3 linked regions of the Homo sapiens genome follow. The protein of the gene in region 1 purifies or fractionates together with the protein of each later gene. This does not show direct contact. Each region holds a gene or a part of one and is shown on either strand. Other genes may lie near its edges. The genes, in order: OR14J1, BST1 and PRSS21.

Region 1 (3,644 bases):
ATAAAAATTATTATCTATGTCTTCAAAGAAAATAAAAATGAAAATAGGTTGGTGGGAGTTGTTGAGAGGAGAATATGGTGTGTGCATTCAAGTTTTTTCTTACGATTTTTCTCCTCCTTCCCTCTATGGAGAAACCTTAATGGGGAGGCTAAATGATAGAGGTTTTTCTTAGATTACATTAACAATGTGTATTAGAAGTGGTAAGTAACACGATGCTTTTGATTTTCAAGCCAGAGACAGTAAGTTTTAAAATATAAGTGAATTGCTTTCATCTATTCACATTTTATTTTAAATTCCAAAACTACCATCCAATATTTGGAGCAAGTTAAGCCAGGCATTAAGATTGGCAGCACTGGGGATTAAGCTATATCTTATGGAGGACCAGGAAAACTGTAGGAGCAAGAAAGCTAGAGAAACTTTGAAGAAAGTAACCCCTGTTTTCCTCTGATTCCTACTGCCATGAAGCAGGGGATGTGACCATCAGTGAGGGATTAAGGGCCCTTCCAGCCCTGAGACTGTTCCTTGTGGAAAAAAAAAATTTCCTAAAAATTAGTTTCAGTCAGTTCTCAAAATAAATTACAGCAAAATCAAAAAGATCTTGGTTTAAGTGATTTTTAACCTTTTCCTACAGCTTAGGGATTAATAAATGAAACAAACTACAATATCAGATGCAGTTACTTCAAAATCAGATGCATTAACTCATGTAACTTAGCCATTAAGTTTTTGTCTATATAGAACTGAAATCAATTATGTAGATATCCCGTTAAATAAGTATTTACTTAGAACCTATATGTTAGATGCCTTTGGTCAAGGGTGAAGAAATGGACAGAAATGATGAAGGAATAGTCTTTGTGCAGAAGAAACTCAGTGAAAATGATACTGATTGACCTTTCAACAAATGCACAGATTTAAAAAGAAAAAAAAGAGGCAAAAATTAGTTAGCAGAGTGATTCTGATACACAAAATAATTCTATGATGGTGTTGATTCTATAATAATAGCACATTTAAAATGAAATAGGAAAAGTTACATCATTTAATCCTCCTAACAATTGTTACATCTGGTATAGATTTTTTTTTTGTTTGGTTGGTTATTTTAAGAAATGGGCTCCCACTATCTAATATATTTCAAGTCCTAGAAAGAAATATATATATATATTTTTTCATTCAGGAACTCACAATGAGACACAGCACTAGAAAGATATATACTCTACTACCTAGCATTCTGCCTATCACATAGATTTTAGAAAATCTCTTTATTTCTTCAAATGGATTTGATTGAAAATGTCCAACCCCAAGTTGTCATAAGAATTTTGAGAATTAAACGTTCTTTGACGGTGAACCTTTGTCACTTAGTTGCAAGATCTCCAAAGCTCAGGATTCAATGCCTGATATCAGTGGCATCTGCATTTTACAATTTTGAGACATTTCATTTTTCAAAATTTCTATGAAAAGTTTATTACAATCAAATGTAATCTTTTTAAAGTGTTAAGAGCTTTTCAAAGGAAAAAATATGACTGTTCTTTGAGCTAACCTCTCTTCTAGATTAGCTTCTGAGCTGTTTCTAGATCTGCCTCTGAGCTGTTTCTAGATCCATTTGCAAGGTGGTATCAATAACTTCATGTTAGCTGGTTAGCAAAAGAAGCTATATAGTGCATCGTTGTAATACTAAGGCATCATATAGAAGATGTAATGAGATTGGTATGCTAGAATCATTTTCATTGACTTTATTGAAGGTAAAGACTTTATCATTTCCATCAATTTCTCCCTCTTTGACAATGCAAACTCTGCTCCAGAAAATGTTTATGACTTGTTGATCACATTCAGGGATTCTATTTCTGAATAATTGCTAAAACGTTTTTGAATTGAATATTAACTAATCGCAATGAAAATAAATTCATCTCATTTCAGTACCTCCTTGCTGAGGAATTGAGTTACTTGACACACAAATATATTAGATGTCATGCATTTTCTTCCTACTGTCTTTGGCTTCCTAAACAGAGTCACACTTGGTATCTTCAGAGAGACTATGGTCAATTTGACTTCAATGAGTGGATTCCTTCTTATGGGGTTTTCTGATGAGCGTAAGCTTCAGATTTTACATGCATTGGTATTTCTGGTGACATACCTGCTGGCCTTGACAGGCAACCTCCTCATTATCACCATCATTACCGTGGACCGTCGTCTCCATTCCCCCATGTATTACTTTTTAAAGCACCTCTCTCTTCTGGACCTCTGCTTCATCTCTGTCACAGTCCCCCAGTCCATTGCAAATTCACTTATGGGCAACGGTTACATTTCTCTTGTTCAGTGCATTCTTCAGGTTTTCTTCTTCATAGCTCTGGCCTCATCAGAAGTGGCCATTCTCACAGTGATGTCTTATGACAGGTACGCAGCAATCTGTCAACCACTTCATTATGAGACTATTATGGATCCCCGTGCCTGTAGGCATGCAGTGATAGCTGTGTGGATTGCTGGGGGCCTCTCTGGGCTCATGCATGCTGCCATTAACTTCTCCATACCTCTCTGTGGGAAGAGAGTCATTCACCAATTCTTCTGTGATGTTCCTCAGATGCTGAAACTAGCCTGTTCTTATGAATTCATTAATGAGATTGCACTGGCTGCATTCACAACGTCTGCAGCATTTATCTGTTTGATCTCCATTGTGCTCTCCTACATTCGCATCTTCTCTACAGTGCTGAGAATCCCATCAGCTGAGGGCCGGACCAAGGTCTTCTCCACCTGCCTACCACACCTATTTGTAGCCACCTTCTTTCTTTCAGCTGCAGGCTTTGAGTTTCTCAGACTGCCTTCTGATTCCTCATCGACTGTGGACCTTGTATTCTCCGTATTCTATACTGTGATACCTCCAACACTCAATCCAGTCATTTATAGCTTACGGAATGATTCCATGAAGGCAGCACTGAGGAAGATGCTGTCAAAGGAAGAGCTTCCTCAGAGAAAAATGTGCTTAAAAGCCATGTTTAAACTCTGAAGAACCATACAAATGAAAGGCATTGTTATTATGTTTCAGATTGGAAGAGAGGTGAATCTTATTTCTACCCAGAATGCTCTTCCAAGCTGTCTATTGTATATATTCCTCTCAAATATAATTCTTTAAAATTTAAGATGTTGTGCTCTAATAATATTAGCTTTCCTTCCTCCCTCCAATTCAAGTGTTATTTTAAGTCATCTTTGGAAAATTTTTCTGAAATGAAGGAGAAAGACAATTAGTTTGGAGTCTGGCCTGTATAATTTAAAACTTGTTATTAACAAATAAGGTTGGAGATAGATGAAGCTAACTGGGTTAATATTATGGTGCATATATGGTATTTCCAGTGGGCCTCCTAGTTTTCTATCCATATTAAGTATTCATATTAAGTTCTTTTACTATTATTACAGTGGTGATTTCAACAATTTATTCAGCCCCTAGTAAGTATCAAGTGCTTTATATATATACATTTTTTTGACTCAAGAAAACAACTCTTCTAGCTATAACATATTGTCCCCATTTTGCCAATAGGAACAATAAATTTAGGAAGGATTAGTTAATTTTCCTGAGATTTCTCAAATAAATGGTAGTTAAGCTCTGATTCAAATTAATATTTGTCTGACTCAAACAATAAGGTCATTTATGTTCCTTACTG
Region 2 (4,392 bases), on another chromosome or scaffold:
CCACGTGGTATTCTATTAATACTGGCTCTTTTTTTTTTTTTTTTTGAGACGGAGTCTCACTCTGTTGCCCAGACTGGAGTGCAGTGGCCCGATCTCGGCTCACTGCGAGCTCTGCCTCCTGGGTTCACGCCGTTTTCCCGCCTCAGCCTCCCGAGTAGCTGGGACAACAGGCGCCCGCCACCGCGCCTGGCTAATCTTTTGTATTTTTAGTAGAGACGGGGTTTCACCGTGTTAGCAAGGATGGTCTCGATCTCTTGACCTCGTGATCCACCCGCCTCGGCCTCCCAAAGTGCTGGGATTACAGGTGTGAGCCACCGCGCCCGGCCAATCCTGGCTCTCTTAAACTGAACATCTCCAGGATTTTGCATCTATCAGGAAGGGATATTGTGACCTCTGACAAGTTACAGTCGGCGGTAGGTATCCATGGAGAATTGGTTCCAGGAACCTCCTGGATACCAAAATCCACAGATGCTCAAGGCCCTTATATTAAATGGTGTAGTATACAGTATTTGCACATCCTCTTCTATAATTCACGTCATCTCCAGATTCCTTGTAATATCAAGTACTATGTAATTGTTACATAAGTAGTTGTTACATTGGATTATTTAGGGAATGATGACAAGGAAAAAAAAGTCCGTACATGTTCCGTACAGATGCAAGCATTCTTTTTTTCCTCAAATGTTTCTCATCCGTGGTTAGCTGAATTTGGATGATGAATCCGCAAATCTGGAGGGCCGAACATGCTTAACTTCCCTGAGTTTATCCATTGCTAAAGCGAGAGAAATTACAAACTTAGCTAGGAAGGGTGTTGCGGAAAGTAATTAATATTATACTTGCAAAGTGCTTGGCACGTTGTTGTGGTTATTATTTCCTGAAAACAAACAAACACCACTTATTGGTTGGTGTGAAAGAGGGCATCTGTCAAAGTTGTCGTCCTTTGGAGCCAGAAAAGTATTTCTTCTGATGATGACTGACCTCTCCTCACCTCTCCTTCAACCTTGCGGCTTCTTTGGGGCTCCCTCCCCGTGGACAGCGGTCAAGATTAGCCTGGGCCACAGTGCACTGGTCCTGTCCTGGGTGATGTTCCAAGCTCACTCTTTTTTAATTTTATTTATTTATTAATTTTTTTTTTAGACAGAGTCTCACTCTGTCGCCCAGGGCTGGAGTGCAGTGGTGCAATCACTGCTCGCTGCAGCCTCGATCCCCTGGGGTCAAGCCTCCTCACATCTCACCTCGCAGGTAGCTGAGACTACAGATGCGCACCACCAGGACCAGCTAAGTTTTGTATTTTTTTGTAGAGAGGAGGTTTCTCACCTGTATGTTACTCAGGTTTGTCTCGAACTCCTATACTCAAGCGATCCGCCCGTCTAGGCCTCTCAAAGTGCTGGGATTACAGGCATGAGCCGCCGCGCCCCGCCCCACGCTCAGTCTTGAAATTGTCTGGAACGGGAAACGGCAAACAGCGAGATATCCGAGCGAGAGTCCCGCCCTGCATCAGTTTGCGGAACCGCCTTGGTAGAAGGAGAGAAGGGGAGTGGAGGAAGCACGGGACTGGAGGGACCAAAGTTCCCCGATGGCGGCCCAGGGGTGCGCGGCATCGCGGCTGCTCCAGCTGCTGCTGCAGCTTCTGCTTCTACTGTTGCTGCTGGCGGCGGGCGGGGCGCGCGCGCGGTGGCGCGGGGAGGGCACCAGCGCACACTTGCGGGACATCTTCCTGGGCCGCTGCGCCGAGTACCGCGCACTGCTGAGTCCCGAGCAGCGGTGAGGCAGTCGGCCGGGTGGAAGGGGAGCCGGAAAGAGGCAACGGTGGGGAGGGCCTGGGGAGGGGAAAACTGGCGCTAAAGTTCGGGGTGAGGGGGCAATGAGAGAGGCCTTGAGGGGAGAGGTGAGTGTGGAGACAGCGATGGTCCTGAACGATGGGGGCGAGTGAGGAGGGGGCTGTGAAGTGTGTCTGCAGGTGAGGGGTGCGCTGTGCGGGGTCTAGAGATGAGTGTGTGTGTGTGCGCGCACACACACACTGTAGAGGTGAGGGGTGTGTGCGTGTGTTCTAGAGGTGAGGGGGGTGTGTGTGTGCGCGCGCTCTAGAGGTGGGAGGTGTGTGTGTGCTCTAGAGGTGGATGTGTGTGTGTGTGCTCTAGAGGTGGGGGTGTGTGTGTGTGTGTGTGCTCTAGAGGTGAGGGGTGTGTGTGTGTGTTCTAAAGGTGAGATGTGTGTGTGTGTTCTAGAGGTAAGGGGTGTGTGTGTTCCAGAGGTGAGGTGTCTGTATGTGTGTTCTAGAGGTGAGGGGTGTGTGCATGTGTGTTCTAGAGGTGAAGGGGGTGTGTGTGCGTGCGCTCTAGAGGTGAGGGGTGTGTGTATTCTAGAGGTGAGGGGTGTGTGTGTTCTAGAAGTGAGGGGTGTGTGTGTTCTGGAGGTGAGATGTGTGTGTGTGTGTTCTAGAGGTGAGGGGTGCGTGCATGTGTTCTAGAGGTGTGTGTGTATCTGTGTTCTAGAGGTGAGGGGTGTGTGTGTGTAGTCTAGAGGTGACAGGTGTGTGTGTGTGGTCTATAGGTGAGGGATGTGTGTGTGGTCTAGAGGTGAGGGATGTGTGTGTGGTCTAGAGGTGAGGGGTGTGTGTGTTCTAGAGGTGAGGGGGTGTATGTGTATTCTAGAGCTGAGGAGAGTGTGTGTTCTAGAGATGAGGTGTGTATGTGTGTTCTAGAGGTGAGGGGTGTGTGTGTGTTCTGGAGTTGAGGGGTGTGTGTTCTAGAGGTGAGATGTGTGTGTTCTAGAGATGATGGGTGTGTGTGTTCTAGAAGTGAGAGGTGTGTGTGTTCTAGAGGTAAGGGATGTGTGTGTGTGTGTGTTCTAGAGGTGAGTTGTGTGTGTGTTCTAGAGGTGAGATGTGTGTGTGTTTGTTCTAGAGGTGAGGGGTGTGTGTGTGTAGTCTAGAGGTGACAGGTGTGTGTGTGTGGTCTATAGGTGAGGGATGTGTGTGTGGTCTAGAGGTGAGGGATGTGTGTGTGGTCTAGAGGTGAGAGGTGTGTGTGAGTGTGAAGGAGGGTGGAGAGGTATCCCTCTAGAAGTGAGGGTGGGGTAGAGGTGAACTGGGTAACAGCCCATTGCCACCCAGCAGATGTTTAGTCTGAATACTCAGAACCCAGAATGTGATCTCAGGTTGGAATTCCTTGAGTCCAGTCCTTCCAGAATTCAAATTTCAGATCCCCTAAATCTGGAGGATTTCTGAAGTTTGGGTCTTTCTTGCCAGTGCTGCATTTCTTACTGATTTTTGTTCCTTCTGTGGCCCCCCTTTTCTTATGTTTGTGATGTCTTTCTTGTGCTGATCATTTTTATTGTCGCACATTTCAGGCAAATAAGAAACAGCAGAGAACCACCTGTGTTACACACCACCCAGTATGAGAAACAAAGTTACAAATGCTATGGGAAATATTTTTTGAAAACTAGCATGGACCTCAAGAGGGGCTTGCACTGGAGGGTGCACCTGCTTTGCCAGAGGTGGAAGCCTTTTGCAGCATTGGGCCTCCCTCCTAACACTACACATCCTGCTGGCTGGCCTGGCCTCACCTGGTCCCCGAGCTCCACACTGGAACTGGACTATGAGACTGGCCCCACCGTTAGGTCTAAATGAAGAGGCACCTGCTGTATAGTTGACTGAATTTGTCACCTCCTGCTCGGTGCCATTTCTGCTTGTCTCCGTGAGCCTGGGGCAAGGCTGTATTCCTTAGCTCTGAGAAATCTGTGCAGTGCCTTCAGAGAGACAATTCCAGTGTCAGATTTCTGAATCTGTCACCTAAGCCATGACAATTCGTTGTCTTTTTTGTAAGCCTACTTCTGCAGTTACTATATGAAAAATCTCTTGTAAAGCTCTTAGACAAATGGGCATACTTCACAACACATTATGATGTGCATGTGTGTGTTCTTCCCAACTTGTACTTTTGCACAGGAACAAGAACTGCACAGCCATCTGGGAAGCCTTTAAAGTGGCGCTGGACAAGGATCCCTGCTCCGTGCTGCCCTCAGACTATGACCTTTTTATTAACTTGTCCAGGCACTCTATTCCCAGAGATAAGGTAACACCACAACCATCTTGGGTAAAACTGTGTTCTCTGTCTCTACAGAAATGGATGGTGCATGGGCCAGGTTGACATTAGCTGTCCCCTGCATCCTGCAATGTCACAGAAACATCAGGCAGCACACATAATGTGTGTGCTGAGCTCTCTGTGGGAAGCTAGCTTTGTTTCTGTATTAGTCCGTTGTCACATTGCTATAAAGAAATGCCTGAGACTGGGTAATTTACAAAGAAAAGAGGTTTAACTGGTTCACAGTTCCACAGGCTGTACAGGAAGAATGGCAACATCTACTTCTGGGAGGCCTCTGGGAGCTTTTACTTCA
Region 3 (4,133 bases), on another chromosome or scaffold:
GCCCAAGGCCTCCCAGCCCGCGCAGGGCACAGCAAAGGTGCACACCAGGCAGGGGGCTCCAGAAGTGCCTGTCCCCTGCCTCCCCGGCACTGTGAATTGAGGCACAGCCTGGGGTTGGTGTGACCTGTCTACCCTGGGCTGGGGAGAGAGGGTGGCAGAGGCAGCCTGGCCGTGCCCCTGGCTCATATCCACTCGTGTTTGCAGCAAGGGTCCTTCTCAGGGAAGGCAAAGGATCCCTCCTCCAGAGGGAGGCGGCTCCAGTGCTGAGTTCCCCACTCCCAACTGCCGGGGTGTGACTTGGGGACATCCCTTACCCTCTCTAAGGCAAGGGGCCCTGACTTCTCCATTTACTAGTTCTTGGCAATTTCCATAACCCTCTCAGTTTTCTCATCTGTAAGATGGGTATAAGAACGTTACCAACTTCATTCCTAGGTGAGCTCCAGCAGGAGGAGAGGCCGCGCCTGGCTCACTGCTGGGCCCCCATGTCTAGAACAGTGCCAGGCACACAGCGTGTGCTCAAGGAACCACGTTTGTTATTGTTACTACTGTTGTGGGATGATGCAGGGACGGGCCAGACAGGGGAGCAGAGGGAAGGGATTCCTGATACAGGGAACACGCCCAGTCTGGGGCTGCCGGGGCTCCTCCGGATGCTGGGCCCACTTCTTTCAGGGCATGTGTGTTGGGGGACACGCAGGTGCCAGGGCAGGCCCACCAGAGGAACCCCCAGAGGGGTTTCCGTGGGAGCTGCGGTTGAGCATGGCTTGGAAGTTTCTGGGGAGAGGAATGGGCTCAGTGCTGCAGGAGAATCGGCCAGAGCTAGGGTGGGTGTGGGAGGCATGGAGAGGCAGCCCAGGAGCCTGATGCCTGGGGCATTGGTGAGCACTGGGGGAGGTGGAAAGATGCAGGAATAAATCCAAGTATGAGGTTTATGTCGCCAAGCCCTCCAGAACCCCTCCACCACCGCACCACCCACAGGCCTGCGCCAAACTGGCCTCCCTCTCACACTCTCCTTCTGGCCCCCACAGCCCCTGGAAGGGAGAGAACTGGGTGTTTGGTCCCTGCCCTGGCAGGTGAGGAGAGACTGCAAGCAAGAGGGGCATAGCCTGCACCCCCAGACCAAGCAGGGGGCTATTGTGCCTATGCAGGGGAACAGGTGAACAAAGACAGTTCCTCCCTGACCCGCCTGTCCCCAGCCTCACCCTCATCCTCTTTGATGTACCCCCAGCCAGTCACCCAGCAGTCTGTCCGGTTCTCAAACTCAAATGTGGAGGCCTGGAGACAGATGGGCTGGATGTGTTTAGTGTAGGTGACAGGTGCAGACAGCTTCACCAAGGCAATGTCATAGGGTGAATTCCCCAGGTAGCGAGGGCTCAGATAGATATTCGATACGAAGTAACGGGTGTAGTAGGCCTGCAGGCTCCAGAAGGATGGCATGGAAGTCAGCTGGCCAAACTGGACCATCCACCCGGAGGGATCACTAAGGTCACTATAGCTGGCAGAAGAGAAGAGAGCAGTCAGGGGCCCTGGATGGAGGGCTGGCTACCTGAGCACAACTGGGGTCCAGTGCAGGAGGGGAAACTGTGGTGTTGCTGCTACTTGCTAACACCCAGGGTCCCCTGCAGAAATGAAGGAGCCCAGACAGACCACAACCAAAGTCCTAGGACCTGCTCCTGCAGCAGAAGGGTGGGGTCTTGTCACCTCCCAGAGCTGTCCCAAGGAGCCTTGCATTGAGCCAAGGCCTCCAGGGGCACCCCCATGCAGCCCAAGGAGGAATGGGGAGATGCACCACGCCAATGTGGGATTGGCAGGATGGAGTCCACACAGCGGCCCGGGGGTGCTGGCCTTGGCTCAGTGCCCCACACTGTACCGCACCGTCCACCAGGAGGGGGGATGAGGGTGGGATGGTCAGTGGTGAACTTTGGGTTGAAAGAAAAAGGGAGAGAATACCCAAAAGTGTGTGGAAATGTTCTGGAAGAACATTCTGGAATAACCTGAACAGGGTTCCCTCCAGGAGACCCAAAGGGAACTGGAGTGGGTGTAACCGGCTGCAGCACAGCCTGGGGCTCAGGAGAACACCAGGCCGCATCCACGCACAACTTTCACGCCCAAGTCTGGCATCAGACCAGAGGTAAAGTTCGGTGGCACTCCCTCCAGCCCTGTTCCTGCCCGTCCCCGCACCCCTCCGTTCGCACCCCCACTCACGTTTCAAAGCAGTGCGCCGCCGTGAGTGCCCAGCGGTGGCTGAGCAGGCTCACTCCGCATACGTGGGAATCCCACAGGCGCAGGCTCCCCTGCCACGGCCAACGCCCGAGTTCGGCGTCCTCTCCACCCACGATGCGCGACGTGATGACCCGTCGGCCGCATGGTCCTCGGATGGTCAGAGGAACTGCTGAGCCGCGGGAGGCAGCCCCCCAAGCCCGACCTCTCCCTTTCTCCCCTTCAACCCCGTCCGGGAAAGCACGTTTTTGCCCACCCAGGGTCCCCTCGCGTGTGTGCAGCAGGAAGTAGGTGACACTGGAGATCCTCCCACGTGCTCTGCAGGGCCCGCCCATCCCCCTCCAGCGTCCGTTAGTTACTTTCCACGCCAACAGAGTTCTCGATCCCGGGGGCGGGGGCGAGAGAGCAGTAAAGGCCCCCCTCTACCCCCTCACCGCCCCCCGTCCACCTCGGCCCAACGGCCCTGGCAGGAATCGCGCGTCCTGGGCGCCCTACCTGATAACGGCGCCGCCTCCTGCGACTCTGCGGGAGACAAGAAGTGACTCCCCGCGGCCTCCACCTCCCGTCCTCCCCACCGCTCCCCCGCCTCCCCATCCCGCCAGCAGCGCCCCGAGCTCACCCGGCTTCCTGAGTCCAGCCCGAGCCAGCAGCAGCGCCAGCAGCAGCGCCCCGCGCGCGCCCATGGCCTCCTCTCCCGCGGCCTGACGCCCCCTCTGCCTCCTCTCGCGCCGGGCCCGGGGCGCCCCCTGGGGGCGGGGCGGGGTGGGAGCTCTGCCCTCTACTCCCAGCTTCACCCTCCTGGGCCCAAGGGCTGTTTGGGGCCTCTCATGCCTGGCAGCGCCCTGGCTTTCAGCCCCTAGGGGCGGGTCTTCAACCACACTTCTTGATGTGGCCCAGACCCGGTGGACCCCACAGTCCCTTTCTTGTCTGCAGCCCAGGGGTCCCGGCTGCCCTCTTGGTGACCCCGTCCTCCACCTACAACCTCCTCCAGCACCAAGGGCCTGGCCCTGAGCCAGGAGTCCCCTTAAAGCCTGGGGACCCCCTGAAGGCCGGGTGGGGCCTAGAGGCATGGCTGCTCCTTCATGGGACCTTCTTGGGAAAACAGTGGTCCTCGGCCCGTTCCACCCAGAATGGGGATCTCCCCAAGTCTCTGCCCAGGCTGTCCCCACTGCGGGCTCCCGCTGGGCTCTCTTCACTTCTCTGGAACAATTTTTTTTTTTTTTGAGATGGAGTTTCGCTCTTGTCGCCCAGGCTGGAGTGCATTGGCGTGATCCCAGCTCACTGCAACCTCCACCTCCTGGGTTCAAGCGATTCTCCTGCCTCAGCCTCCCAAGTAGCTGGGGTTACAGGCGCGCGCCAGCACACCTGGCTCATTTTTGTATTTTTAGTACAGACGGGGTTTCGCCATGTTAACCAGGCTGGTCTCCAACTCCTGACCTCAGGTAATCCGCCCACCTCGGCCTCTCAAAGTGCTGGGATTACAGGCATGAGCCACCGCGCCCAGCTGCAATTCCACTTCTGAGCATACACCCAAAAGAACTGAAAGGAAGGTCTTCAAGAGATATTTGTTTTTGGTTTTTTGGGGGGATTTAGTTTTGTTTGTTTTTGAGATGGAGTCTTGCTCCATCGCTCAGGCTGGAGTGCAGTGGTGCGATCTTGGCTCACTGCAACATCTGCCTCCTGGGTTCAAGTGATTCTCCTGTCTCAGCCTCCAGAGTAGCTGGGATTAGAGGCACCTGCCACCATGCTTAGCTAATTTTTGTATTTTTAGTAGAGATGGGGTTTCGCCATGTTGGCCAGGCTGGTCTTGAACTTCTGACCTCAGGTGATCTGCCCTCTGCGGCCTCCCAAAGTGCCAGGGTGAAGGTGTGAGCCACCCCACCCAGCCTTCAAGAGATATTTGTATACCCATGTTC

The links.
Region 2: the proteins of OR14J1 (region 1) and BST1 purify together in Homo sapiens (affinity purification with mass spectrometry; one large-scale study listed by BioGRID and IntAct). This does not show direct contact.
Region 3: the proteins of OR14J1 (region 1) and PRSS21 purify together in Homo sapiens (affinity purification with mass spectrometry; one large-scale study listed by BioGRID and IntAct). This does not show direct contact.

Annotation. Positions count from the first base shown.
Region 1 is NC_000006.12:29,304,664-29,308,307, forward strand, and holds part of OR14J1 (olfactory receptor 14J1), read left to right. Parts: intron 1-1,998; 5' UTR 1,999-2,026; coding exon 2,027-2,992; 3' UTR 2,993-3,644. UniProt on the Homo sapiens protein: Odorant receptor.
Region 2 is NC_000004.12:15,701,572-15,705,963, forward strand, and holds the start of BST1 (ADP-ribosyl cyclase/cyclic ADP-ribose hydrolase 2 precursor), read left to right. Parts: upstream 1-1,493; 5' UTR 1,494-1,573; coding exon 1,574-1,761; intron 1,762-3,943; coding exon 3,944-4,070; intron 4,071-4,392. UniProt on the Homo sapiens protein: Catalyzes both the synthesis of cyclic ADP-beta-D-ribose (cADPR) from NAD(+), and its hydrolysis to ADP-D-ribose (ADPR).
Region 3 is NC_000016.10:2,816,036-2,820,168, reverse strand, and holds the start of PRSS21 (testisin isoform 1 preproprotein), read right to left. Parts: upstream 2,933-4,133; 5' UTR 2,901-2,932; coding exon 2,837-2,900; intron 2,740-2,836; coding exon 2,713-2,739; intron 2,369-2,712; coding exon 2,203-2,368; intron 1,493-2,202; coding exon 1,200-1,492; intron 1-1,199. UniProt on the Homo sapiens protein: Could regulate proteolytic events associated with testicular germ cell maturation.